Homo sapiens: one gene and its partners. The protein of the gene in region 2 interacts with the protein of the main gene of each other region in a pairwise test. Each region holds a gene or a part of one and is shown on either strand. Other genes may lie near its edges.

Region 1 (6,899 bases), on a different chromosome or scaffold from region 2:
GTGTGAGCCACCACGCCCGGCTGAGATGGGTATTATTATTATCTTTGCTTACGGATAAGGACATTGAGGCACAGGGGCATTAAATCAATTGCCAAAGGTCACACAACCATTAGTGGTAGAACTGAGATTTGACCTGGGTAGTTTGGCTCCACAGCCTGGGCAGGCAACCACTGCCTTTTGCAGCATGTCTATCAGCATGCTATGTGAGCTTGGGAAAATCATCTTATTTCTCTGTACTTAATTTAATTTATAATAAAATGGGGATAATAATATGTACCCTAACTCCCTCCCTGAGTGATTGTGAGATATCAGGACAAAACAAAGTTATAAAAGTGCAGTAAAATTCAGTATGGCTATTCAAACATTCAAACGAGGAAATACATTAGATGGCTTATTTCTTTAATTACAAGGAGTTTAAAGCCACAATTATCCAATTGCCCTTTATCTGTGCTTCATTATAAATATCCTGTTCCTCTTTTTAAAGGAATAGATATACTTTTAATTTTTTTTTTTTTTGAGACATGTCTCTCTCTGTCACCCAGCCTGGAGTGCAGTGCCGTGATCATAGTTCACTGCAGCCTCAAAATTCTGGGCTCAAGCAATCCTGCACCGCAGCCTACTGAGTAGCTGGGGACTGCATGTGAGCACCACTATACCTGGCTAATTTTTTTTTTTTTTTTGAGACGGAGTCTCGCTCTGTCACCAGGCTGGAGTGCAGTGGCGCAATCTCGCCTCATTGCAACCTCTGCCTCCCGGGTTCAAGCAATTCTCACTGCAGCCTCCACCCCCTGGGTTCAAGCAATTCTCCTGCCTCAGCCTCCCAAGTAGCTGGGATTACAAGCACACACCACCACGCCCAGCTAATTTTTGTATTTTTAGTAGAGACGGGATTTCACCATGTTGGCCAGGATGGTCTCGATCTCCTGACCTCATGATCCACCTGCCTCAGCCTCCCAAAGTGCTAGGACTACAGGCGTGAGTCACTGCACCTGGCTCGATTTATGTATGTTTTGTAGAAATGGGGTGTCACTCTGTTGCCCAAGCTGACAAAGAATTCTTATTATTATTATACTTTAAGTTTTAGCGTACATGTACATAACGTGCAGGTTTGTTACATATGTATACATGTGCCATGTTGGTGTGCTGCACCCATTAACTCGTCACTTAGCATTAGGTATATCTCCTAATGCTATCCCTCCCCGTTCCCCCACCCCACAACAGTCCCCGACAAAGAAATTTTAACACAGTTGAAACTGTACAACTATGGAAGGTGCCACCTTGGGAATGTCTGGAAAAACTAAAAAAGTTAAAATGGCAAAAACTCCAAAAATTATTGGGTGTCCTGTGGCATGCTAGGCCTTATCTAAAGCACCTTTCTGGATTACCTGATTTTTTAGTGATTTTTGCCTTATAAAATCTTGCAGCTATTTTCCAACTTGGTAAGTTGTAGAAAATTCATAGGAATGCCAATGATTCTTGTCCATAGAGATGCCTGGTAGAAGTGCAATTGCTCTCCCAGCACCCCGAGGCCAGTTCTGCATTTATTATTTATTTTTATTAAAAATATAATTTTTAAGACAGAGTTTTGCTCTGTGGTCCAGGCTGGAGTGCAGTGGTGTGATCTCAGTTCACTGCAACCTCTGCTTCCCAGGTTCCAGAGATTCTTCTGCCGCAGCCTCCCGAGTAGCTGGGATTTGTAGGCGTGCACTATCACGCCCGGCTAATTTTTTGTATTTTTAGTAGAGATGAGGTTTCAAGATGTTGGCCAGGCTGGTCTTGAACTCCTAACTTCAAGTGATCTGCCCGCCTCAGCCTCCCACAGTGCTGGGATTACAGGCATGAGCCACTGCACCCGGCCAGTTGTGCATTTATTAACATGTTCGTTTCAGCATTCCTGATTGCCTATATATGTGTGTACACTTTGTGTTTTCCTCTGGACAGGGCTAGCTTTACTGGTCTCCTCATTCATTAATGAATTAAAGTCTTTGATGTGTGTGCATTTTATATTTGTAGAGGAGTCATGATTTTACTCTTTTCAAAACAATTATCCTGTAACAGGAACCCTCTGAGCAGAGGCAGACAGGCCACCCTTGATTCCTGCTGTGGAAAGAGAATTTTTTACTCCAGACCCCAATGGTCCTTTTCAGATTCCTAACGTGAAGGGTTGTTCATATCTCGGCCTCTCGCGGAAGACTCTATTTTCTTGAAGCGCGGGGAACTACGTATTCCCACTAACAAAAATCTGTTAAGGGGCAGGGCGCAGTGGCGCACGCCTGTAATCCCAGCCCTTCGAGAGGCCGAGGCGGGCGGATGGCTTGAATACAGGAGTTCCAGACCAGCCTGGGCAACATGGCGAAACCCTATCTCTACGAAAAAAACACAAAAATTAGCCGGGCGTAGTGGCGCACGCCTGTAATCCCAGCTACTTGGGAGGCTGAGATGGGAGGATGGGTTGGGCCCAGGGGATCGAGGCTGCAGAGAGCGGTGATCGCGCCACTGCACTCAACTTGCGCAACAGAATGAGACTCTGTCTAAAAAACAAACAAACAAACAAACAAACAAACAAACAACCCCCAAACTCCCCAAAAATGTGTTAGGGGAAGGAGGTGGGACAGTGTGTATTTCTGATCTACTCGCCTTTCCTAGTATGACCACCAGGGGGCGCGGAAGCCCTCCTGGTACTAAGGCGGGGACAACCTGCCCAGCGAGCACAGCGGGCAGAAGGAAGTGTGCCGGACGCGAGAGAGAACTACGGCCGAGACCCGCGGGGCCGGCTCAAAGCCCGACCTCTGCCATACGCACCGTATCTTTATGGGAGCCGATGAGGTCAGCAGGGAGCACGCGTTCAGATGGCAGAAGAGGGCAAAGTACTGCTAGAATTACAAAGATATTTACAGCTTTTTAACCTGAAAGCACAGAGCAGATCCTATTCTTCAGAATTAAATCTTCGGCTCGCCAGTCCCGTTTATGGATCTCCACTCTGATGAATGTGCCATTTGTTCCCAAGAAGACAAATAGGGTAGGGAGAAGAGGGAGAGGCGGGGAGAAGACTCGAGATAAAGGGACGATCTGCTTTTCGGAAGCAGAAGCCGCCTGGGAACCACCTGCACACCAAGCAGGCTGCGAGGACGGGGAGCGCTCCAGTGCAAAGTTCTGTATTTTAAAGCCCCTCCTCGCTCACAGGCTTCACAGCGAACTACGAAGTGGGTACCATCTCTGATTTACAGACACGGGAACGGGGTCCTCTTGAGAAACGATGCTTTCCCAAACGTCTGCAAATTGTGAGTGCCAAGTGTCTCCACTGGCACTAACAACATCGAGCTGCTTACGTTTCTCGGAGCGGTCCCGATTTCCAACAAGCAAAAGATCCAAATTCTCTGACCACCCTGACCGTCCTGTATCTCCAGATCTCCAGGTCTTTCCTCTGGACACCTCCTCCATCCCCCCACTTTCACTGCCAGCAGCCCTGAGGCTGCGCGGGATCCCGCTACTCGGAATGCCTTCCTCCTGGCGGGATATTTTTAGAACACTCGACTGCCACCCAATGTAGCCCACATCACATTGTCTTATTTGTTTTCGGGAGCTTGTCCCCGCCTAGCAAGGAGTCGGCTAAGAACTGGATCCTAGCGAGGAGCCCGGCACAGACAGCGAATGACCGCAGCCAGACAGTCGCTCTTGCTCTTCCTCGGCCCTGCGGCAGGATCCGCCGGTGCAGGGGCCTCTCCCCGGACTCCACGCGTGTCTGGAGGGCTCTCGGGTTAGGGAAGGGGGCTTTGGAGACGCCCCGGGCGGCCGGGCGGTGGCGGGACGCGGGCCCTTTAAGAAGGAGCGAGGGGCGCGGCCAGGTAGGGGCGGGTCCAGGGCGGATCAGCGCTGCGCCGGCGCCGGCCCGGGAGCCGGATTTGGAGCGCGAGGCGCCGGTGGGGGCGGAGGGGGCTGCGCGGCGGAGGCTCCCGTGGCCTCGGACGCTCCTCCTAGCTAGCGGCCGCCGCCCGCCGCCGCCTGCGCCTCCAGCTCCTTCGCCCCGGCGGGCCCGGCCGCCGCTTCCGGCAGCTCACCTGGGAAGCGCTCACCTGGGACGCGCTCACCTGGGACGCGCTACCTGCCTCCGGGCGCCTGGGCTTCAGGATGAAGGACCGTCTGGAGCAGCTGAAGGCCGTGAGTTTCGCCGCAGGCGGGGTGCTGCCAGGAGGGGTGCTGCATGGGAGAGGGGCTTCCCTTTGCTCCCCAAGTCGAGGCTGGAGGGGGGCCCGAGCCGGAGGCTTGCCCTCCCCAAGCCCCCACCGCTTCCCGCGCCGGTTCCGCACCCTCCCCTCCCCTCCCCTGCGGGGTCATGTGCCCGGTGATTCATCGCTAGGCAATGATTTTCCTGAACGCCTCTAACTCTCCCACCCCGCAAGCTGGACAGTGTCTGTCCAGAGCTGGTTCCCGAAGCGGGTGCTTGGGCCCGGGAGGTCAGGGGTCCCTTCACCACCTGCCCACTGCTGCCTGGCACTATGCCCAGGACCAGCCTCCTTCTCCCTTTCCTGTTTCTCTCCTGAGGTGCTACAGGCCTGGCTGCCCCTTCCCCCAGGGAGCAGCTCAGAGCTCTCTGGTGACCTCTGGAGCTGTGAGCCGGTCACATGCTGGGATGGGTCAGCTCCTCTCCAACCGGTGGTCTGTAATTGTTATCCCCGGGTGTCATTGTCCCCCCCTCCCCCGCCGTATCTTTTGGAACAGCTGTGGTTAGGTCAAAGGATCTGAAGGTAGACTACCTCCAGCCTTGGCTGCGCAAAAGCTGTAAAGCCTTAGGTTACTTACTGTGAGTCTCTGTTTCCTTATCTATCAAATGGGAATGATCATACCCTAGGAATTTGTTGGGAGGATCAGCTGATACAATGGAACTTGATACAGAAAAGGGTTAACGCATAGGGTTTTAAGCCAGATATTCATTGACTCATTCAGTACATAATTATTGAGTGTATTCTATGGGGAGGTCCAGTGCTAAGCCTTGGAGATTCAGTGGCACAGGTTCTACCTTAATAGAATTAAAATCTAGCCCTTGACACTCAAGAGTTTAGTCCATCTACTTTGGAGCTTGTTACAAGTGTAGCAGCTTAGGCCTGAGTCTAGCCCCGCAGAATCAGAATCTAATTATTCATCCATTTCCCCAGGTGATTCATGGGCACATTACAGTTTGGGAAGCACTGGACTGGATTAGAACTGGGGTTGTCTCCTGGCTCCACTGCTTACTGGTGATCCCTTAAAATCCCAGCCTAAGTTTTGTCATTTGTAAAATGGGTAGTTGTAAGGTCGAAATGCAACAGAAGATGCTTAAGAACACTTTTAGGGTGCATGGCACGGGGGACTTAATAAATGGTGAAATATGCTAATAACTGTGAGTGCTCTTGGGAAAATGCAGATGTCAGGGACTGCTGGGATGATGTTACAAGAGTTTATCCTTTTTCTCCCTTGCTTGGATGAGACCTTCATTCCTGTTTCACCTGTTCTGTGTAGCAGGGCTGCGGAGGAGGCAGGTAGCTGGGGAAGTGAGAGAAGCAAAGGGACAGTTGCCTATTGTGGGAGTGGCCTCTCTGCCTCAGGCTTGTGCTTAGTCATCTCAGCCTCACAGCGTCCAGGTTACTGATGGGGCAGAATTTATTGCCCCTGTTTTTATAGATGGGGAAACTGCTGCTCACGGGGTAGGAGGGATGCTCCAGGACACAGAGCCGGCCAGGGCACCACCAGGAGAGGAACCCAGGCTCTTGACACTCTCCACAGTGCTCCTTCCCTTGAAGCACGCTGGTTGGGGAGGCAGAAGGAAAAGAAGAGCACGATTTTGAAGATCTCTCTGTGTCGGCACACCCAGCAACCATAAAAAAGTACAAAACTGAACAGCAGGCTCTTCCATTTATTAGGAAATCCACTTCCAGAGGAAGATACTCCATGGCCCCTTTCAGTAGCTCATTGTCAACAATGAGCAAAGAGTCTTAACTGAGCTTTGAGTTCCAAGAATAAATTTAATTTGCCTGGGGACGCTGAGCAAGTCTCTTTGCCTCTCCTCGGTGCCTCATGGTTACCCTCTGTACAATGGAATTAATGATAGGTTTCCTCCCCTTCCCTCTTGGGGATGTGGTGAAAGTGAGACTGGAGATGGTGGTGGTATTATGGGAGGATTGTTCTGAAATCACAGGGTGGCTTCTGTAGCGTCTTGGAGCAGATGCATGGCAGCGTGGGACAAAGGGACACAGGTGGCAGGTTCCAAGACTGATCACTGTGCTTCTTTGCGTCACTTCTCTGCTTCTCAATTCCTCCTTTATACAACAAAGAATTGAGTTGATCTCAGAAGCCCCCTCTGGCGTTATTATAGGTTTTTCTTTGAAGACTGTTAAGGTTTATGTGGATTTTGGTGTCAGTTCACCTCCTCTTATCCCCTCTCCCCAGCCAGACTCCCAGGGATCACCCTCACTGAAACAAGATATGCGTCTTCTCCCTCTGATTTCCGTTATCAATTAGAAGCGTTTGTTAACCTGCATGAAACAAATTGCACATTGAGCAGCCTATGCAATCTCTTTCTGTGGTGTTCTTTCTAAATCCTGGGGAGGGGAGGTGGTAACTGCCTCCCGATAACTGGAGGGCTTTCCGTGCCTGTGATTGACTTTGTTCTGGGTAGATACAAAGAGAACATGTGGGGTTGATGGGTAGAAATGAGGAATCTGTAAGAAAGCGTTTTTAGTAGACAGAGCTGCCCAAGGATGGAGTAGATGGTGCACCCTCCAGCATGGGAAGGAAGCAAGAAGCTTGTTGGGATTTTGAATGTTGTAGGAATTTGAGCATCTCTTGGAGGGGAGGTGAACTAGGAGATATAAGGCCTTCACCAACCTTAAGAATGTGTGGTTTTATAAAATGCTTAATTGTGA
Region 2 (7,836 bases):
GGTGCATTCCTGTAATCCCAGCTACTTGGGAGGCTGAGGCAGGAGGATCACTTGAACCACGGAGGCGGCGGTTGCAGTGAGCTGTCATTGCACTCCAGCCTGGACAAGGAGAGCGAAACTCCGTCTTAAAAAAAAAAAAAAGGTGGCTTAACTGTCCTCTCTGTCATGGCCTCTCCCTCCCTCTTGCCCCAGTGGTATTTGGCTCTTTTGTCTGTCTTGTTTTTCCCAGACTGACCAGCCTTGGGGTTAACCAGGGGCAGGGTGACAACTCACAGGCAATGACGTCCCTCAGCCTCCTTCCCCCCACACTCCAGAGGCTGCAGGTGACTCAGGGTCTTCGTCGGTGGCTCCGGAAGCCTTGCAGGTGCCCTGCCACATGGCCGCTGTGCTGCTGGCTGCTCTGACGGGTCCTGCCGGGGCTACTGCTTTCCTGTCCCCTCCCCCGAAGCTGGGAGATGGATTTCCTCCCTGAGTGATTAATTGGTCTATTTTAAGCTCATCAAAGTAGCCTCGTACTTTCAAGTTCCTCAGGGAGCAGGCCCGGAAGATGATACCTGCGGACTTAAGGCTGCTCCACTGCAGGATATGGGGTCGGGGGCTGTGTCTGTCAATTGTGAGGTCCCTCAGGGCAGGCCCCCTCCTGAGCTGGACAGGGCTTGGCTCCTGAGTGCTGATTCTGCAGGCTGTGGCTCAGTTCTGCACTATTACTCTGGCTCCGGCAAATCCTCATGAAAATAAGCCTGGGAGCCCCGAGGGTTGCAGGTTAGCCCCCTACAGCCTTCCCTTGCATCATCCTTGCTCCTCTAACCAGGGACACTCCTGCCTCCTCCCTGACTATCTCTGCCGGGTTAACACCTGAGCATCTTCTGGCTCGATAATTCTGTCATGACCCAATACGCCTTCCCTGACCCTCACATCTGGGTTGAGGGCCTTCCTATGCCCTGTACCTAATCCTGGTTTTCCCTCTGTAAGGTGGTCAGAGATGGGCTTGGGCAGAGTAGTTTCAAAGGCTCTCCCCAAATCTCTGTGCAGCTCCCCTGACTGAAGGCCTGTGAGAACAGGGTGGTGCCTGTCTTGTTCACTGTTCCCCAATACCTCACCTAGTGCCTGGCACAGAGAAGGTACAAAAATAAAACTTTCCCAAGAATGAATGGTGTGCATTTGAATCTTATAGTGTCTGAGGACTGGGGAACCATCTCTTATCCCTTTGTATCCTCTGCTGCCCAAGGTCAGGGCCTCTGCCTGAAGTCCCTACTGAATGAGGGTTAACTGGTTCAGAGATGAGGGAGGAAGCCATTGCTGGGAGGGGCTAGAACTGGGCCCCTGCCCTTCCCACACCCGAGCAAGAGCAGTAGGATTGTCAGATGAAACACAGGACATCTGCTCACATGTGAGGAATACATCTTTTTTTTAAGACAGATTCTCTCTCTGTCACCCCAGGCTGGAGTGCAGTGGCATGATCTTGGCTCATTTCAACCTCTACCTCTTGGGTTCATGCCATTCTCCTGTCGTAGCCTCCCCAGTAGCTGGGATTACAGGCATCCACCACCATGCCTGGCTAATTGTTGTGTTTTTAGTAGAGACAGGGTTTTGCCTCATTGGCAGGCTGGTCTTGGACTCCTGACCTCAAGTGATCCGCTCACCTCAGCCTCCCAAAGTGCTGGGATTACAGGCATGAGCCATGGCACCCAGCTGGAATACATCTTTAGTATACTGCATGTAATATTTGGGACATGCTCATGCTGAAAAAACTAACTGAATTTGAATTTTTTTTTGGTTTTCTTTTTTTGAGATGGAGTCTCACTCCATTGCCCAGGCTGGAGTGCAGTGGCACAATCTTGGCTCACTGCAACCTCCGCCTCCTGGGTTCAAGCAATTCTCCTGTCTCAGCCTCCCAAGTAGCTGGGATTACAGGTGCCTGCCACCTTGCCCAGCTAATTTTTGTATTTTTAGTAGAGACGGGGTTTCACCTTGTTGGTCAGGCTGGTCTCGAACTCTTGACCTCAGGTGATCCACCCACCTCGGCATCCCAAAGTGCTGGGATTACAGGTGTGAGCCACCGCACCCGGCCTGAATTTGAATTTAACTGGGAAGCCTTTTTTTATTTTTTCCTCTTCTTTCTGAATCTGGTAACCCTAGCAAGGGAGAAGTGACTAGCCAGGTGCCAGGTGGGTCTACGGCCTGAGTCTCCAGCTCTCTATTCACATTCTGCCTGCTTCCTTGATGCTTCCTCCTCCTTAAATGCTTTCTGTCAGAGACCAGGGGGCACTCTAGGCCTGGCTGCCCAGCACGCGGAATCCAGGAGCACTCCTACCTCCTAATCCCTGCCCCAGCTGCCCTCTGGATGGTCAGGGAAGGCCTGAGGAGGTGATGTTTGAGCTGAGATTTGAGAGAATGTGACCAGAGATGATCCAGGAAAGAACATTCCATGGAGAGGTGGGAGTGAACTTGGTGCATCTGAAAACAGAAAGGCTAGCGTGGTTCTGCGATGTGGGAAGGGAGTGGAAACATGGAAACACAGTCAGCATTTCCTTTTTTTTTTTTTTTTTTTTTTGAGACGGAGTTTTGCTCTTGTTGTCCAGGCTGGAGTGTAATGGCGCGGTCTTGGCTCACCACAACCTCTGCCTCCTGGGTTCAAGTGATTCTCTTGCCTCAGCCTCCGGAGTAGCTGGGATTACAGGCATGTGCCACCCCGCCCGGCTAATTTTGTATTTTTAGTAGAGATGGGGTTTCTCCACGTTGGTCAGGCTGGTCTCTAGCTCCCGATCTCAGGTGATCCGCCCGCCTCGGCCTCCCAAAGTGCTGGGATTACAGGCGTTAGCACAACTCAGGAGGCCCTGGAACTCATCTTGTGCCACTCAAGAAAGGGCAGGAGGGGTCCTCTCCTTTCCCACCTTTCCCAAGCTGAAGGACTGCACACTTCTCAGGCTTCCAAGGCAGGAGCTTCGGCAGCAGGAACAGGGTTGCAAGGTAGTTAGTCTGGGTGTCTGTCGTCCTGGGTTGGGACATCTGGGAGCTGGGGCAAGGCCTCTGGGCCCTAGTGCCAGAGAGCAGTTTGGTGGCGTTGCCTGTTCTTTAAAATGGGTTAGGTGTAGCCATGAGCCCCCCCATGCAGCGGGTGTGCAGGCCTCTCCCTCAGTCAGAACACCCTCACCCACCCCTCCCCACTTGAAGCAGGCCCTTGAGAACACTGCTGGCAGGGAGGCGGCTGCTCTTCCTCCTAAGGGAAAAGCCTGCAGCCCCGTGCTGCTGGGCCGTGGGGTGAGGGGGAAGCCAAAGGGCCCCTATCACCCCTCAGCAGGAGTCTCTCCTGGCTTTGGAAGGGGCTGAAGGCCCGGGGCTCTCACGAGGGAACTCAGCCCTGCTCAGCCGGTCAGGACTCCTCCTCCACGTCTAAATCCACAGACCAAACAAAGGACATGGCTCAGTTCCACCTTCAATCCACAGGGATTCTGCCTGTTAGCACGCTAAGGAAACTGTTTCTTACTTTAAATTATCCATTAATTTCCTCCAACTGAAAGATACTCTACAAATTTTCTGTTGTTGGAGGGTTTAAGCTTGGTCCCTCTGAGGGGGTGGGCCCTGCTGTGTCGGCCCCTTGTGTCTGCTCGTGGAAGGTGTGCCATGTGCCACCGTGTGCCATATGCAGCTGACACGCCTGTGCGTCTCGCCTGGCGCTGGAGACTGCTCTCTGTGTACTAAGCGAGTACTGGATCCCCAGGGCCTATCTTGCCCACTGCCTGTGGCAATACACAGGCAATACACAAAGCGCATTCAAGTAAGCAGGTCTCCCTGCCCCCCGGCCTCCCAGAACCTCGGTGCCTGGAGGGCAGGTGGGGGAGGGCGTTCCTGAATGGAGGCCGGTTTCCCTCTGCGGGGAGGAAACCCCATTTCCCTCCTACCCCTAGGCGCTTGCTACATCTGGCCCGGCATCAGACAGGAAAGAACCCTTTCTTCCCAGCTTGTAGGAAGTCTGAGCTGGGCCCCTTATCTACCCACAGCACTTCCTGGACCGGGGGCCTGGACCGGGCTCCGAAGGGGCTGGCTCCCGGTCTTGGTCTTGGCCTCGGCGCCCTCGTTTCTCTGCGCTTTGGGCAGGGGAAGCTGCGGACGGCAAGCTCTCGGCTTTCGTGAGAGCCTGGTGGAATCGGTGTTCCCCGAAGGCTACTCTGCGGGGGCGGGGGCTAGTCCGGGCCTTCCCGGCAGTATCGTCTCCCCCGTGGGGGCTGGGGAGGTGCCCCCAGGGCTCCCGGAGCGGCGGCGTGGCCAAGGCCCGAACCGGGTCTGACATCTAGTGGCCTCCTGGGCCCGGGCAGGGCGAGGGCGGGGCAGGGAAGAAGGTGGAGGGCAGAATGGGAGGCGTGGAGCGAGAAAATCAGGAAGCGCGGGACCAAGCCGGGGAAGGGCGGCGGGTCTCGCCCCTGGCACCCGCTCTCCTCGGGGCCCGTCCCATCCCCCAGGCCTGGCCGACCCCAGGTCCTTCCGTGCGCAGTCGGGGCTCGCAAGGACGAATCCCGCGGCCCTCGAGGCAGGCCCGGGGGAGCTCCCGGCCCTCCACCCCCGCAGGCCGCAGATCCCACGCACCCCCGATCATGGGGGCCCCGGAGGGAGGTCGCGAGGCCGGGCTCACGGTGGCCGCGGTTCGCCCACGTGCGGGCCCGGAGCTGGCAGGGCCCGGTCCCGAGCGTGGCCGCAACCGCGGGGACCTGGCACGTGCGGGGCAGCCCCGGGGGCCGCGTACGCCACTTCCGGTCCCGGAGACACCGCCCAGCCCGCCGCCCGGTTGCCATGGCGACGCCGTCGCGCCACGGCCCGCAGAACCGGCCAAGCGACCCGGGCGCGGCGCGGGGAGGCTGAAGGGACGCTCGGGTAGGCAAGGTAGGAGGCCGGGCTGGGGGTGGGAGCGGAGCGCGCAGGGGTGCGGGGCGGGGGCGGCCCAGGTGAGCCCTGACTGCGCAGGGAGGGACAGCGCGGGGCTCCCGAGTAGCAGCCGGCCTCGCACCTGCCCCTTGCGGCCGCGCACTGGACTGCGGCGCCGACCCGCACCCTGGGCCCGAGGGCTGCAGGGCTCGCCCGCCCTCTCGGAGCCGAGCCTCTCCCGGTCCAGGCGGCCCCTGCCCTGGCCTGCCCGGGTGCCGGGTCTCTGCTGAAGTTAGAACCGAGACCCCCGCTTGCTGGTGACCCCGAGTTTGGATCTTTGCTCCTGCGCCGCGTTCTAGAGCAAGGTAGGGTGCAAATGGACCAACCAGCCTTTGCCACGGCTGCCCTCTTGAAATCTGAAACCGGAGCCACCGCCTCTTGCCCCGAGCAGGGCCCGGGCTGCAACGTGGAGCCGCAGGTCCCCGCCTGTGTCTCCCGACGCCCCCAGCTTCTGAGCGCGAGGGTGGGAGTTTCCCGAGTGGGAAAGCCCCATGGCTTCGGTGGCCTCGGTGGCCCTGTGGTGGGTCAGGCCGGTGCCAACTGCGCTGAGGGCGGAGCTGCCGCCACCTTGACACCTGGGAGATGGCAGGGCCACCCTCCCTCCCTCCCTCCCTGCCCTGTCCCCGACTGTATCACGGAGCGAGGATCATCCGTGTGGATCTGGGGTCCCCTTCCCAGACTTCTCCTTTCTGGTCGTCCTCCTCTCATTCATTCCACCTTGGCAGCCTTTGTGGATTTTCTGACTCCGTAAATGAAGTTACATCTAGGGCGCCTAGATTCTGCCCCTTTGGTTTAATAGCTAATGAAAAAAAAAAAAAAAAAGCTTTGCCACCTCCTCTAGGTGCCTGGATTTCTCCCGGTGAAATTTGATGGAGGCAGGAAAATACGAGGCGGTGGCAGCCCCACCTCCTTGCATGAGGGAGCCTCCTAGAGCTGGAGGTGGAACCACCCTGCTTGTCCCACTCCTTTTCTTTCTTGCTTTATTGCTTTCTTGCTTTCCTTACTTTCCTTCCTTCTTTTTTTTTTGAGATGGAGTCTTGCTCTGTTGCCAGGAGGCTGGAGTGCAGAGGGCAATATCAGCTCACTGCAACCTCCATCTTCCGGGTTCAAGCGATTCTCCTGTTCCAGCCTCCCTAGTAGCTGGGATTACAGGTGTGTGCCACAACACGCAGCTAATTTTTGCATTTTTAGGAGAGACGGGGTTTCACCATGTTGGCCAGGCTGGTCTCGAACTCCTAACCTCAAGTGATCTGCCCGCCTTGGCATCCCAAAGTGCTAGGATTACAGACGTGAGCCACCGTGCCCAGCCTTGTCCTACTACTTTTCTGCCCTCACCACTTTTCCTTGGCAGGCAGAGCTTGGGCTCCTGCTAATACTGGGATGGTTCAGTGGCATTAGATGGCATTGGTGGAGGGGAATGAGAAATTAACCCCCTCTGAAAGCGTAGCTTCACTGGGAAAAAGCACTCTACTGTCTGAACAATTCATAAATGAATTTTGGGAATATACAATGTCACAGATTAAAAGCAGACCATCCTGTGTTCTTCCAGCCCCAGGAGCTTCTGCTTGGTGTGCAGGGGCTAATGGTGGACAGCAATGGAGTGTAGATTTATTAGAGACGGCTGCCATCTGGCTCTCTGTGGCCCCAAACCTCATGTGTCAGCAGTGTGACTCTTTCTAAGGTGCTCTTAGGACCAGATTTCGTTTTTGTAAGATTGGTCTTTGATGGAATGCCTACTTTGTGGCAGGCACTGTGCTGGGCGCTGGCACACCTTTATCCACTTACTCCTTCTGTGTTCAATAAGGTAGCTCCAGATATCCTCCACTTTATAGATTAGGAAGCAGGCTTGGAGAAGGGACTTGGCTTGTCCAGGAGCTGATGGTTATAAATAATGAGTCTGTTTTGAAATCACATCTCTCTAACCTGGGCTGCGCTGGGCCTTTCATGGGCCGTTGGCCCTCTGGCCTTCACGGGCCCCGTCTTCCATAAAAAAAATAATAACAATTGGCCCGGCGCAGTGGTGAAAGCGCGTCTCTACAAAAGATACAAAAAATTAGCCAGGCATCGTGGAGCACGCCTGTAATCCCAGACTCGGGGAGTCTGAGGCAGGAGAATTGCTTGGACCCGGAAGGCAGAGGTTGCGGTGACCCGAGATCTTGCCATTGCACTCCAGCCTCAAAAAAAAAAAAATTAATAAAAATTATATTTTACAACTGCATTGGTATAAATACAAGTATAGTCCAGACTGGATTACAATTAATTTTAAAAACAAAACATTTTAGGGCTGGCTCATGTCTGTCTGTAATCCCAGAGCTTTGGGAGGCTGGGGCAGGAGGACTGCTTGAGACCAGGAGTTTGAGACTAGCCTGCACAACATAGTGAGACCCTATCTCTCCAAAAAAAGAAAAAATTAACTGGGCATTTCAGCATAGCTGTAGTTCCAGCTACTTGAGAGGCTGAGGTGGGAGGATCCCTCGAGCCCAGGAGTTCGAGGCTGCTGTGAGCTATGATCATGCCATCGTATTCCAGCCTGGGTGACAGAGGTAGACACTGTTAACAACAACAACAAAAAAATTAATTAAAATAAGTTTTAAAAAATTGCAACATTTTCCTCAACCCTAAATGTTCATTTTTTTCTTCTGATTTTCATGGAAATGGAAACATTTTGGTTTGTAAGCATTGGGAGCCCTCTGTCTTGTGGGAGAAAGGAGCTCAGTGTTTGACTTCAGGCTCTGCTGCTTCCTGGGTACCTAGTTCCTTGGTACCTGGTCCAAGCAGCCTGGATACCCCGGGTCCCTGGGCTGCCTGGGCCAGGACAGCCGCCCTAGGATAAATGGAAATGCAGCCCCTGCGGCTTGTTCACCCTCCTGTAATGCCTTCTCTCTTACCCTTTGGTCAGGGCCTGGTGTCTCTGCA
Region 3 (7,024 bases), on a different chromosome or scaffold from region 2:
CCTAGGGTCCTTACTGCACATTGGAGAGTGATGTGGAGACCCTTGGATAAGAAATGGAAGGGAGAGGTATGTTGGTGAGCATCATGGCATTGGGAGGGCTGGTGTGCTTAGGGTCAAGAGTAATAATTTGGAAGTACCAGTGGGGGTAGGAAGATGCAGACAGGACTGTGGTCCCCTCGTATCATGGCAGGACACATGATTTCTCCTCAAGGGCCTTCAGGAGGAGCAGTGACTTCTGGCGGAGGAGACTGTCGAGCCACAAGGAAAAAGCCCACAGGGGAAAGTAGGCAGAGGGGAGTTTATTTAAACTGTCCTCTACTTTCTAGGGGAGAAACTTTCCCTAAACACTCCCATCTTCTGCCCCTCCATGTCACTCACTCCTTTGTGGGAGGTGGCGTGACTGATTGAGTGTGTGATGAAGAACTGGACAAAGGTAGCTCAGCACCTTCTTCTGCTGCAAGTCGGCTGCCCATAGGAAGCGCAGAGTCTGGTCTGCCTTCCCATGGTGTCATTCCACAGGGGCAGTCCCCACAGGAAAAGGTCTCTAGGTTTTCATTTTGACCTGGAACCCAGTGGGTAAGGCTGTTTCTGGGTGTCAGAGACCCAGTATTAGGAAGTGCTTTGTCATCACTCACCAAAGCCATATTCTTCCCACGGCTGCATCAGTATAACAGACATTTAATCTTCATCAGCTTGACTCAGTCATCTCTCTTAGAACTTGGGCTGGGAAAAGAGGGATGGATACTTTATTTTTATTTTTATTTTGAGACAGGGTCTCGCTGCACTCTGTCACCCAGGCTGGAGTGTAGTGGTGCGATCATGGCTTGCTGCCTTGACTTCCCAGGCTCAAGTGATCCTCCCACCTCAGCCTCCCAAGTAGCTAGGACTATAGGCGCACACCACCATGCCTGGCTAATTTGGTTTATTTTTTGTAGAGACGAGGTCTCTTCATGTTGCCCAGGCTGGTCTCAAACTTGTGGGCTCCAGTGATCCTCCCACCTTGACTTCCTAAAGTACTGCGATTACAGGTGTGAGCCACTGCACCTGGCTGGAGGGGATGGGTACTTTAACCACCACCAATAGCAGCTGCTCTTTCCTTCATCAGATACTTTATGGAGGCTGAGATGTGTTTGGCTGTCAGTGCCAAACACGTGGAAGGTGCATTTCTAGCTCTCCAACAGCTCATTCTAGGCTGCAGCAGACAAGTTACCAGGCCGCATGGTATGTGCTTTGTAAGTGTAGGCGCAGGGTATCATGGGAGCATCTAGGAGGGATATCTAGTCCAGGTCAGCCTCAGGACTGAGACCTTTTTGAGGTTTTAGGAGATGTGAGAGAACTTCTGTATTTGTGTCCTTATATTGGGTATTTTTAGTAGTTTAGAGAAATGGCAGAGTAAGAAATGATCACACATAAGATATTTGGGGGCAACTGCAGTGAAGTGGAGTGCCCAGGACCACATAACTGCTGTGTGGCAAAGCCGGGACGCAGACACTGGGACCAGGGCTGTGGGGGTTGGAAAGAAAGTAGAAGTCATAGATCTGTCCTCAACAAGGTGTCATCTTAGAGAGAAAAAGGCAGAAATGCATTCTCAAAGGCTGAGGATTTTGAGTCGCATTGTTTTCTTGGGAAGGACTCATTAAGGGGAGTTGGGGGGTATTGAACAGCCATGAAATGAGAGGGCTGCACAAAAGACAGTGCCGGCTGAGTTCTGCTTTTGGAAAATGGCTAAAATGGCTCGTTCTTCTGACGCCTGAGGTGATTTCTTTTTCCTCTGGCTCTAGCCTAAGTTTAGAAGCTTGAGGCCTTAAGGTTCTTTATATTGTTCAAAGATGGGAGAGCAGGTCCATATTAAAAACAAAACAGGCCAGGCGCGGTGGCTCACGCCTGTAATCCCAGCGCTTTGGGAGGCCGAGGCGGGCGGATCACGAGGTCAGGAGATCGAGACCATCCTGGCTAACGCGGTGAAACCCCGTCTCTACTAAAAATACAAAAAACAATTAGCTGGGCATGGTGGCGGGCGCCTGTAGTCCCAGCTACTTGGGAGGCTGAGGCAGAAGAATGGCGTGAACCCAGCAGGTGGAGATTGCAGTGAGCCGAGATCGCGCCACTGCACTCCAGCCTGGGCGACAGAGCGAGACTCCGTCTTAAAAAAATTAAATAAGTAAATAAATAATAACAAAACAACACTGTGATGCTTTAGAAATCACAGTTTAAAATACTCGGCTTGTGTGCATCAAAATCAACAGTGGAGTTAAAGACAGAAAGTAAAATTAAAATCCTAGATGCTCAGGCCCAGAATTTTGGAAACTGGGGACTAGGTAGTTTCTCTTAGAAAGGTGCAAGGTGACTGTGATATAAAGCCAGGGCCGAGGACCACTGACTGATAGTATTATATTTTGTTCAGGCAGTTTAAAAAATTTTCTTAGGCCGGGCATGGTGGCTCATGCCTGTAATCCGAGCACTTTGGGAGGCCAAGGTGGATGGATCACCTGAGGTCAGGAGTTCAAGACCATCCTGGCCAACATGGTGAGACCCCATCTCTACTAAAAATACAAAAATTAGCTGGGTGTGGTGTTGGGCACCTGTAATATCAGCTGCTCAGGAGGCTGAGGCAGGAGGATAGCTTGAACCTGGGAAGTGGAGGTTGCAGTGAGCCGAGATCGTGCCATTGCACTCCAGCCTGGGCAACAACAGCGAGACTCCGTCTCAAAAAAAAAAAATTTTTTTTTTCTCATATCCACATGTTGGCAAAGGAAAAAAATGTCTAAAAAGACTCCTTAGGGGTAATGATAAAAGGCCTTTTTAGACATTTTTTTCCTAATCATTCCTGTGGAATGTGGAATTAGATAAACTATATCATTTATATACTGCATGCATATCTATGCTTTATACATACAATTAGAGCCATATTTTTTTCTTCACTTTGGGGGCGATACTCCCCCCAGTGAGATTGCATGCTCTAGCAGAAGAGAGGTCTTTGAAGACTCCTAAAGATGAACATGGACATTTTTTCCTCATAGATATAACTTGAGTGATGGCTGGGCATGGTGGCTGACCCCTATAATCCCAGCACTTTGGAAGGCTGAGACAGGTGGATCACTTGAGGTCAGGAATTCGAGACCAGCCTGGCCAATATGGACATGGTGAAACCCCATCTCTACTAAAAATACAAAAATTAGCTGGGCGTGGTGGCCAGTGCCTGTAATTCCAGCTACTTGGGAGGCTGAGGCAGGAGAATTGGTGAACCTGGGAGGCGGAGGTTGCAGTGAGCTGAGATTGCAGCACTGCACTCCAGCCTGGGCAACAGAGCAAGACTCCGGCTCAGAAATAAATGAATGAAAATAAAAATAACTTGAGTGGAATAATAATGATTATGATTGAGAGTCAGCTGTGAGGAGCACTTTGCTGACCACTTGATTTAATTCTCACAGCTATTCTGAGTTAAGTACTGTCAATATTTCTGAAACACACGGAGGTTAGGTAATTTGCCTAGAGTCACAAAACTAGTCTTGCTCAAGTTAAGATTCAAACCCATACAGACAGATTTCAGAGGCTGTGCTCTTAACCCCTTCCCTCTACAGCCTCTCATGACTCCGAATCTCAGAATTGCATCATCGTAAAAAGCCTTCATGGAATCCGGAACCTTGCCATTATTGGAAGTTCACTTTGTGCCTTTGTAACTTATCTGTTGTAGCCATCTGTTCTCCCTCTCTCTTCCACATGGATTGTCAGGCTTTTCCCATAGAGAAGCAGATGATGATGGGATATTGGATTGAGTTGGGAGAATGGGAAAGGCATTTCAGTCCCCAAGTCCAGCTGGGGTGGAGGGAAGGGGTTGTCCAGGTTGCCTCACTCTTGCTGAATCAGGTCACAGGTGGAATTGGAAGGGAGTAAAAAGGCATTGGCATTGAGGGTGAGGTGGTGAGTAGAAGATATTTTGAAAATGGGAGGATTTCATTTAGAAATCTTTTATGAGAGAAAATTTGAATTATTGATCTTCCTAATTGTCTTTCAGTATTCCAAGAAAGTCCACTTAACTTGGAGGAATGAAGTTTCCCACTGATAAACTTCTTTAATCCTGTCACACTCAAAACTTCAGAAACAACCAGAAAGCCACTATCTTCCTTGTATTTTTGTTTTTATTTATTTTATTTTTTGAGACAGAGTTTCACTCTTGTTGCCCAGGCACTCCAGGCTGGAGTGCAATGGCGCCATCTCAGCTCATTGCAATCTCTGCCTCCTGGGTTCAGGCGATTCTCCTGCCTCATCCTCCCAAGAAGATTGGATTACAGGCTTGCGCCACCACGCCTGGCTAATTTTGTATTTTTAGTAGAGACAGGATTTCTCCGTGTTGGTCAGGCTGGTCTCGAACTCCTGACCTCAGGTGATCCACCTGCCTCGGCCTTCCAAAGTGTTGGGATTATAGGCATGAGCCACTGCGCCCGGCCTCTTCCTTGTATTTTTAAAGAAAATGCATTGTCATGACCAGAATTTTCCCTTGGTTGGTTGGCTGATGAGAGTGTATATATAAATGCATGTATTTCAAGTCTTACTTTTCATTCTTTCCTGAGTTGTGTATCTCTTTTTCTCACCCCCATCTCCCATAGATTGAGACTTTCTGAAAGCATGGATTGTTTAAGTATGGCTCCCTCTGCAACACTTGATATTCTTAGAAGCAGATTTTTAAGCTATTAGTAAAAACTTTTAAGATATGTGACGATTCATTAAGTGCTGTCAGACCTCTTACTGTTTTTATCTCCACAGCTGGTTTCTCTGTGGCAGTGCCTTGTTGCTTGTCAGTTTATCAATTGCATTTTACTGCATAGTCTACCTGGAATGGTATTGTGGAATTGGAGAATATGATGTCAAGTATCCAGCCTTGATACCCATTACCACTGCCTCCTTTATTGCAGCAGGAATTTGGTAAGTTAACTTTGAAATGACTAACAGGAATGAACAACAAATTTTTTTTTTGATCAGATAGTGATATGCTTGGTCCAAACTTCGAAAGAAAAAAAGTTAAAACAGAAAAATAGTCTCCTGGTCATTCATGCTCTCTGGTTCCCTTTTGATTAGTATCTCTTTCTCCTTCTATTTATGGATCTAGTTATTTAAAGCACAGATGGTGACATTCTGTACATATTCTGCATTTTGCTTTTTAAATCTATTTTATTATGACATACAGTACATATAGAAAAGTGAAAAAAACTGAGATGAATGAATTAGTGAATGAATTCTCATGAAGTGAGCATTGGTGTAAACTGAGCCAGCACACTGGGAACCCCCTTCATTCTCCCTCCCAGTTACTACACCTTCCCTCCTGCCACAGGTAAATACTGCCCTGACCTTCATGGTAACTACTTGCTTTGCTTCCATTAGATATTCTATTTTTGTTTCAGCTACGCTTTTGAACTTTATAGAAATGGATTTGTACAGGGTGTATTCCTTCACATTGAGCTGGCTGTGTGCAGCATTGTGTGCAGTTCTTTCATATTGTCGCCGGGAACAGTGACTCATCTTCATTGCTCTTTAGCATTCCATTGTTTAATTGAATCCCAGTTTTCTTTTCCCTTGTTGATTGTGTTTAGATTTTTTTCAGTTTGGGGTTACTATGAAGGATGCTATAAAGAGCATTCTTGTACATGGCTCTTGTAGCACAGTGAACACATTTCTGTTGGGTGTAGAGATGTATGTATATATGTATATATATGTACCCCAAGGGGTAAAATTGTTGGATGTACGTACCTTTGACTTCAGTAAATCATGCCAAACTGCTTTCCAAAGTGGTTGTTTGTCCTTTTCTCCTTTTGTTTTTCAGTGGATCCTTATAGTTTGGGATTCTTCCATAATGGTACATATAGATGTGTCTCATTTTTTTAAACAGTTGCATAGTTTTCACAGCATGGACATAACATGATTTATTTAACCTGTCTTCTGTTGTTGGACTTCGTTATATTTATACCCAAACAATGCCACAATGAATAACCTTCTTCATAAGTTAATTAAATACTCAATGAAAAATACAGGGTTTTTTGGGTTTATAAAAGTAATACTTGCTCACTGAGGAAAAAAAATCTGTAAATTACATGAAAACACAAAGGAAATATATCCTATGATTCAACCAGAAAGAAAACTACTTTTCCTATGTTGTGTGCAGCTCTCTAGTTTTTTCTTTCTTTATATCAATTGGATTTTTTTTTCTTTTTGGAGATAGGGTCTCACTGTGTCACCCAGGCCGGAGTGCAGTGGCATGATCACAGCTCACTGCAGCCTCGACTTCCCAGGCTTAAGTGATCCTCCTGCCTCACTCAGCCTCCCGAGTAGTTGGGACCACAGGCATGTGTCACCACATCTGGCTATTTTTTGTATTTTTTGTAGAGATGGGGTTTCGCTGTGCTGCTCAGGCAGGTCTCAAACTCCTGGCCTCAAGCCATCTGCTTGTGTTGGCCTCCCAAAGTGCTGGATTACAGGCGTGCGCCACCACCCCCGGCCTAATTGAATTTTTATTTTGGAAGAACCATATACCTTTATACATATTCTTTCTATGACTTATTTTCTGTAGTTGAAGTTCAAGGTTGTTTGACAGTGTGATGTGGTTATTGTTAACCTGTATGTGGGGGCATGCAGATACGTTGTTTTACTTTTTCCCATGAGGGTAAGATCATGTCCAGAAATGTTAATTTTTTAGACAGTGTGATTTGTGATTATAGTTATTTAATACTCATACTTATCAAACTATTATATATTAAAACCAATAACCATCTGAACTTATTTGAATATAGTTTTCCCTATTCTGTTCTTAGAAATTTCAGTCATTAAAAATCTTTATACTTAGTGTTTTAATTTTACTTTGATGACAGGAATAGTGTTTTTCTCAATGAAAGATATAATAGCAGCTTATAAGTGATAACTGTTTTCATTCTGTTTTTAAGAGACAATATTTTGGTCTTTTTTACCATGATAGTTTAGTGTGTGATGTCATAAAAATGGGCTGTAGCCATTTAAATTATTGTTGAAGTCAGAA
Region 4 (6,806 bases), on a different chromosome or scaffold from region 2:
CCTTTGTGGTCAGGCCACACTTCCCCCTCTAAGAGGCGCGGGTTAACCCACTTCGACCCTATCTAAGCTGATCTCTGGTTTCTTCTGCCCACCTGAGCCTCCCTGCCCCTCTTTCCTCCTAGACGGAACAAAAACGAGGTCCATTTTGTCGCTCCAGGAAGGGACTGGTGGAGAGCCGGCTTCCTTTCCTCCCAGGGTAGTACAGTGGGGAAGGTTCCCCTCCCCCACCTCTTTTCCCAGACGTGGTGGATGGGGGAGGGGACTTCGCTGGAGGTGTTAAAGTGCCATTGAGATGGTAACCACACCAAGGGGCCCCCACTTTTCCATATCAATGGCATTCCAGTCCCTGATTAGGCCCCAACCTTAACCCTTCCTTTCCCAAGATCCAACTGAATCCAGGTGCACGGGGGCCTAGGAGAGGGTCTAGGACCTCCCAACCTAGGTCTAGTGAGGGCTGAGGACAACAGGCTAATTGCTACCCATGTGTCCTGGGAATCCTCCCACCATGGGCAGCTCCCCAACCACCCTCTTCCAGCCTCTCCTAGGCTCCAAGATGTTTCTCCACTTTTACTCTCCCCAAGGGGCTTGGGGAGATACTGTGTTTTATCTTAGAGACTTGGGGTGGGAGGAGCCTGAAGCCGCACAGGGCCACTGTGAAGGCAAGTCCAGTGGGTTGGTCACTGAGGTGGGGGTGTGCGCATTTGCTGAGCAGCCTCCACCCACTCTGCTGGCTAGTCCCTGGAGTGTGGGCTTGCTTTCCTTCTTGCTCCGGTGTGGAGATGTTGGGCCAAAGAGGAATTGGGGTCTTAAAAACCTGGGGTCGGCTGGATGCGGTGGCTCACACCTCTAATCCTAGCAGTTTGGGAGGCCGAGGCAGGCAGATCACGAGATCAGGAGTTCGAGACCAGCCTGGCCAATATGGTGAAACCCCGTCTCTAATAAAAATACAAAAATTAGCCGGGTGTGTTGGCACATGTCTGTAGTTCCAGCTACTCGGGAGGCTGAGGCAGGAGAATCGCTTGAATCCAGCGGGCAGAGGTCGCAGTGAGCCGAGATCACATCACTGCACTCCAGCCTGGGCAACAGAGCGAGATTCCGTCTCAAAAAAACAAAACAAAACAAAACAAAACACAAACCTGGGGTCCCCGAGCAAGTGCGGTGGCGCTTGCCTGTAATCCCAGCACTTTGGAAGGCTGAGGCAGGCGGATCACCTGAGATCAGGAGTTCGCAGACCAGCCAGACCAACATGGTGAAACCCCGTCTCTGCTAAATACAAAAAAAGAAAAAAAATAGCCGGGTGTGGTGGCGCATGCCTGTAATCTCAGCTACTTGAGAGGCTGAGGCAGGAGAACAGCTTGAACCCAGGAGGCAGAGGTTGCAGTAAGCCGAGATTGTGCCATTGCACTCCAGCCTGGGCAACAAGCGCAAAACTCCGTCTCAAAACACAAACAAAAAAACCCCTGGGGTCCTCTTATGCCCTTTCCGGGCACAGCGCTCACTGGATGTGTGCAGCCCGCCACTGGGCTACAACGTAGGGGTTTAGAGCTGAATGTGGAACCGGTGAGTCACCGAGGCAGGGCCCGACAGCAAGTGGACCAGCCGTCCCGGTTTCCCTGGAGGACCCAATATTCAAGCTGGGAATGTCCCTCAAAAAAGTGGGATGAGCCGATCACCTTAGGCCCTAGGACAAGGAGGACTTGTTCCGGCCCAGGGAAGAGAATAGCCCCTGGGTTGGGGCTGCTGGGTGGGGGGACTTCCAGGGAGGCAGGCTTGCTGCTGCCTCCTGACAGCTGCCCAAACCTGTGTGGCTGGATTCCTGGAGGCCCCTGGAAGGCTGCGAGGGAGCCCGCTGACCGGCTTGCCTCCGTCTGCAATCTCTGCTCTCCCCACCCCAACCCTGTGAAATCTGAGCCCCAGGGGCTGGGTGAGCTGGACAAACCTGCCACAAGATTCCCTGAGTCCACTGATGGCCATTTTCCAGCCTCTGTATCACCCCCCCATCTTCCAGACTCTGTGGGGCCACCAGGTCAGCCCCCCTCGTACCGGAGGAGCCCCCCTCAGTGGAGAGGCCCAGGGGGTGGTGAAGAGGAGGCCAGGCTTCTGTTTACCTTACAGACCAGCTGATTGGCGCTGGCCTGTCTCTGTGTTTGCAGGGGAGGATCTTAAGCTGTTTTGGGTCAAGGCCCCTTTGCAAATCTGAAGGAAAGTATAAATCTCTCTTCCAAAAGTATCATTTTTTTTAAGAGACAGGGTCTCACCTAGGATGGAGTGCGGTGGCATAATCATAGCTCACTGCAGACTCTAACTCCTAGGCTCAAGAGATCCTCCTACCTCAGCCTCCCGAGTAGCTGGGACTACAGACAGGAACCACCTAACTCAGCTAATTTTTGTGTATATATATATATATATATTTTTTTTTTATTTTAGAAATGGGGTCTCACTGTGTTGCCCAGGTGGGTCTCAAGCTCCTGGCCTTAAGCAATCCTCCCACCTTGGCCTCTTAAGCGCTGGGATTACAGGCGTGAGCCTCAGTGCCCGGACCCAAAAGATGCTAAAACCCTTTCGCAGAAGCGATGCTCATACCCCTAGGTTTGAACCCTGACCGCTCCTTGAGGTTAGAGCCCTTTATACACAATGTCCCACCCACTAGGTGAGGGGCACTGAGCAGGGGTGTGCCTGGCCACTGGCTCCCCGAAGGCAATGCCGTGAAGTGGTGCAGCCACCAGATGTGTGTGGTGGGCACCTCCAGCCCTGCCCGCACTGGCCAGTGGGCTCCAGCACACCCCAGCCCTCCCAGCACCAGGCAGGTGAGAGGCAGTCCCAGGTGAGGGCCCACTCTGAGGATCCTCTGTACCTCCCTGGAAAGTGTATGAATGGAGACAATGTTCCTCACATCCCTTTTCCTTTTTTTTTTTTTTTTTTTTTGAGACAGAGTCTCCCACTGTCACCCAGGCTGGAATGCAGTGGTGCGATCTCGGCTCACTGCAACCTCTGCCTCCGGTTCAAGCGATTCTTCTGCCTCAGCCTCCCAAGTAGCTGGGATTACAGGCACCCGCCACCACGCCCAGCTAATTTTTTTTTTTTTTTTTTTTGAGGAGTCTCTCTCTGTCGCCAGGCTGGAGTGGAGTGGAGTGGTACGATCTTGGCTCACTGCAACCTCTACCTCCCGGTTTCAAGTGATTCTCTTGCCTCAGCCTCCAGAGTGGCGAGTGGCTGGGACTAGAGGCTTGTGCCACCACGCCCAGCTAATTTTTGTATTTTTAGTAGAGACGGGGTTTCACCATGTTGGCCAGGATGGTCTCGATCTCTTAACCTTCCGATTTACCTGCTTCGGCCTCCCAAAGTGCTGGGATATCTAATTTTTTGTATTTTTAGTAGAGACGGGGTTTCACCATGTTGGCCAGGCTGGTCTCGAACTCCTGACCTCGTGAATCGCCCACCTTGGCCTCCCAAAGTGTTGGGATTACAGGCGTGAGCCACCGCACCTGGCCGTCACACCCCTTTTTCAGACAACAATCCTCAGAGGTTCTTAGCACCCAGGCAGGGGCTTGAAGGAGTTCATGAACCCTCCCCCACAAATGAGGGGCACATGTTTGTGGGTGCATGTTCTGTGAGTCCCACGGGGTTTCTCAAGTGGGTCTTTGACCAAAGGAGGTTAAGGACCTCGACCTTCCATGACCTGTCCCAGGTAGGGGTCAGGATTTGAGCTTTGGTCAGTGGGACTCCCAGGCTGTCCCCATGAGTGGAATCACAGGCTCTGAGGGGGTTTTTCCGGAGGTAAGGCTTTCCTGCAAACTGGAAGGCAGGTCTTGGGGACACTTGAGTCCCTGGACTTAACCCCCGTGCCCACCTCTGGGGTGTTTTGGCCCGGGAGGCCTGACTGGCCACTCACTCACCCACCCATGGAACATAACCGGGTCCTGGGCTGTGCCCCACCCTGGGTTCCAGCCCCAGCCCGTCCCGCCTCCATCCCCCTTCCTGAGTGCCCCCCAACCTCCACAACAGGCCCCTCATCCTCTGGCCTCTGGAGATCTTAGGCAGCTCAGCTCAGCCTCGGTTTCAGCAGCAGGGGTGGCAAGAGCGCACCTGAGCTGAGGTTGAAGTGGGGGGTAGTTTTCTAGGCCGTTGCCAGGGCGATGCCACCTGAGCTGGGCGCCAGGCACCTGTCGTCTGGGGAACAGTGCAGGCGGGGACCTTCCCCCGGGAGCTAGCGGGGCCACTGGGCTGAGACGGGGGATGGATCAGATTCCAGAGAGTCCCAGGCGGGCGGGAGTGTGCGATACTCGGGGAGCTGGGGCATGTTTGCATCACGAAACTCGGCTGGGGGAGAGCAGAGGCAGCTGGGGAGGGGCTGCGGAAGGAGGAGGCTCAGGAAGGCAAGCCGACGCCCCCTGTGTGTGTTTCTGTCCTGAGCCTGTTACTTTTTTGACCCCCGATCCGTCTCTTCTTCCTCAGCTTGTCCTCCATCTTCCCCTCCTTTACCCTTGGTTCCCACATGCACAGATGCTACGGACGCTTTTCCTCCCCTGTCCCCACTCAGCCGCAGCATCCCCCGCTGGCCCCCAGGCCCCTCATCCATCCGCTGCCCACGAACCCCCAGCCCCGCACCCTCCCCGTGGCTCAGGTCTCCCCTATCCCGGCCTCCCTGCACTTCACTCTGCTCCTCCCCTGCCTGGGCCTTAAAACCCCGCCTGCAGCCGAGAGCCCGCAGAGTCCCCAGGTGGCACTGTCAGAGTCGCTCAGTGGGAACCTGCGCCAGCCGGCAGGAGACGTGGCTGTCCTCAGCCTGGCAGTGCGTCTGGAGGGCCTGTGCGAGCTCAGCCCAGGTGTGACAGCGGGGTGGTAAGAGCAGCAGCACCCTCAGGGCATCCGATGGGCGGAGGCCCCTCGAGGTGACACCCACCACTCAGCCGAGCGGGACTACGAGTCTGCTTTGTGCTCCGCGAGGACCAGAAACACCTGCAAGAGGCACGGAGAGGAGGCGCCTTTCAAGAGGCGCCTTTCATGGAACTGAGGACTGGCCTGGCTTGGGGACACCAACAAGCCTTCCCCCTCCTGCTGGACACAGAGACACCCACCCAGCACACCAGACACACCCTCTGAGTCACCTAGGCCGCCTGGGGCTGAGAAGACCTAACCGAGGGGCCAGATGGCTTCGACCGGCTTAGAACTGCTGGGCATGACCCTGGCTGTGCTGGGCTGGCTGGGGACCCTGGTGTCCTGCGCCCTGCCCCTGTGGAAGGTGACCGCCTTCATCGGCAACAGCATCGTGGTGGCCCAGGTGGTGTGGGAGGGCCTGTGGATGTCCTGCGTGGTGCAGAGCACGGGCCAGATGCAGTGCAAGGTGTACGACTCACTGCTGGCTCTGCCGCAGGACCTGCAGGCCGCACGTGCCCTCTGTGTCATTGCCCTCCTGCTGGCCCTGCTTGGCCTCCTGGTGGCCATCACAGGTGCCCAGTGTACCACGTGTGTGGAGGACGAAGGTGCCAAGGCCCGTATCGTGCTCACCGCGGGGGTCATCCTCCTCCTCGCCGGCATCCTGGTGCTCATCCCTGTGTGCTGGACGGCGCACGCCATCATCCAGGACTTCTACAACCCCCTGGTGGCTGAGGCCCTCAAGCGGGAGCTGGGGGCCTCCCTCTACCTGGGCTGGGCGGCGGCTGCACTGCTTATGCTGGGCGGGGGGCTCCTCTGCTGCACGTGCCCCCCGCCCCAGGTCGAGCGGCCCCGCGGACCTCGGCTGGGCTACTCCATCCCCTCCCGCTCGGGTGCATCTGGACTGGACAAGAGGGACTACGTGTGAGGCGGAGGTTTCCCCTGGGAGCCCACTGCTCCCCACTGCCCCGCCCTTTCGACCTTGGCCTGATGACCAGATGCCCTGCTCCATCACAACCTCCTTCCCCAGGAAAACCCACTTTCCAAAAGCCCAAGCTACACCTGGCTGCAGGGCTGGGTCAGCTGGCCTGGCTGAGCTCTTCTCAGTGGGGTCCCCTTTGATGTTCTCCCCCAAGTTGGGCAGCCTAGAGGTGTTGGGAACCCTGGCCTGCCCCCACCTCCCCAGTAATTGTTTCCTTCCGTTGCCCAGGACACTGGCTGGCCTTCCTTCTCTTCTGAGCCCTCCCCTGCCCCAGGAACCCTGGCCTCACCAAAACAGCAGCAGCTCGTTGGCTCCAAAACCAGGGAGCAGACCATGCCCTCCCAACCCTGGAGTTGTCAGGGAGGGCCTGCCCATCACCTCCCTCTCCCCAACATCCCCACCCTCGAGTTGGAAATAAAGAGCATTTGTAACTGGGCTCCCTCTAATCTGTGCGCCGCCGCTGGGGCTGGGCAGGCACAGCCAGGTGGCCTCCCTTGGTGGCTGTCAGGCCAAGGTCTGGCTCTAGGTTCTGCCTGGTGGGTATGCTCACTCAAGCCACGGGGAGAGGGGATCGTGACTCACTTATGCCCATCTCTTCCCCTAGCCAGGGTGGGCACTCAGTAACCCGCTGCAACACCAAATGCACTAACAAAACATGCTTTATTTGATAAAAATGTGAGTGTAAAGGGGGTGAGACGAGGGGGGCAGGGCAGAAGGGTGCAGTGTTGGAGGTGGGGGCGGGGGTCTACATAGCTGGGACCTGGCCCTGGGGGGTGGACGTCTTATCAGGACGGAGGAAACAGAGGTCAGAAGTTCCGGAGGTGGGCAGTCCTTTGTTAACAGATCATTTGTTTTTCCAGGGGTGAAGAGAGGAGCTCCAGAGACCTGAGTAGGATGGGGGGCAGCTGTCCAGTGACATCTAGGGAAGCCCAGCCCCCAGCAGCAGCAG

Evidence for each region.
Region 1: the proteins of CYB561 (region 2) and STX3 interact in binary tests that used the Homo sapiens proteins (3 or more experiments, as listed by UniProt).
Region 3: the proteins of CYB561 (region 2) and TMEM128 interact in binary tests that used the Homo sapiens proteins (3 or more experiments, as listed by UniProt).
Region 4: the proteins of CYB561 (region 2) and CLDN9 interact in binary tests that used the Homo sapiens proteins (3 or more experiments, as listed by UniProt).

The regions. Positions count from the first base shown.
Region 1 is NC_000011.10:59,751,478-59,758,376, forward strand, and holds the start of STX3 (syntaxin-3), read left to right. Parts: upstream 1-3,898; 5' UTR 3,899-4,128; coding exon 4,129-4,158; intron 4,159-4,390; exon of another isoform or gene 4,391-6,899. UniProt on the Homo sapiens protein: Potentially involved in docking of synaptic vesicles at presynaptic active zones. Apical receptor involved in membrane fusion of apical vesicles.
Region 2 is NC_000017.11:63,443,287-63,451,122, reverse strand, and holds the start of CYB561 (transmembrane ascorbate-dependent reductase CYB561), read left to right. Parts: upstream 1-4,816; 5' UTR 4,817-4,878; exon of another isoform or gene 4,879-5,225; intron 5,226-7,836. UniProt on the Homo sapiens protein: Transmembrane reductase that uses ascorbate as an electron donor in the cytoplasm and transfers electrons across membranes to reduce monodehydro-L-ascorbate radical in the lumen of secretory vesicles.
Region 3 is NC_000004.12:4,238,220-4,245,243, reverse strand, and holds part of TMEM128 (transmembrane protein 128), read left to right. Parts: intron 1-4,764; coding exon 4,765-4,923; intron 4,924-7,024.
Region 4 is NC_000016.10:3,008,214-3,015,019, forward strand, and holds CLDN9 (claudin-9), read left to right. Parts: upstream 1-4,709; 5' UTR 4,710-5,149; coding exon 5,150-5,803; 3' UTR 5,804-6,292; downstream 6,293-6,806.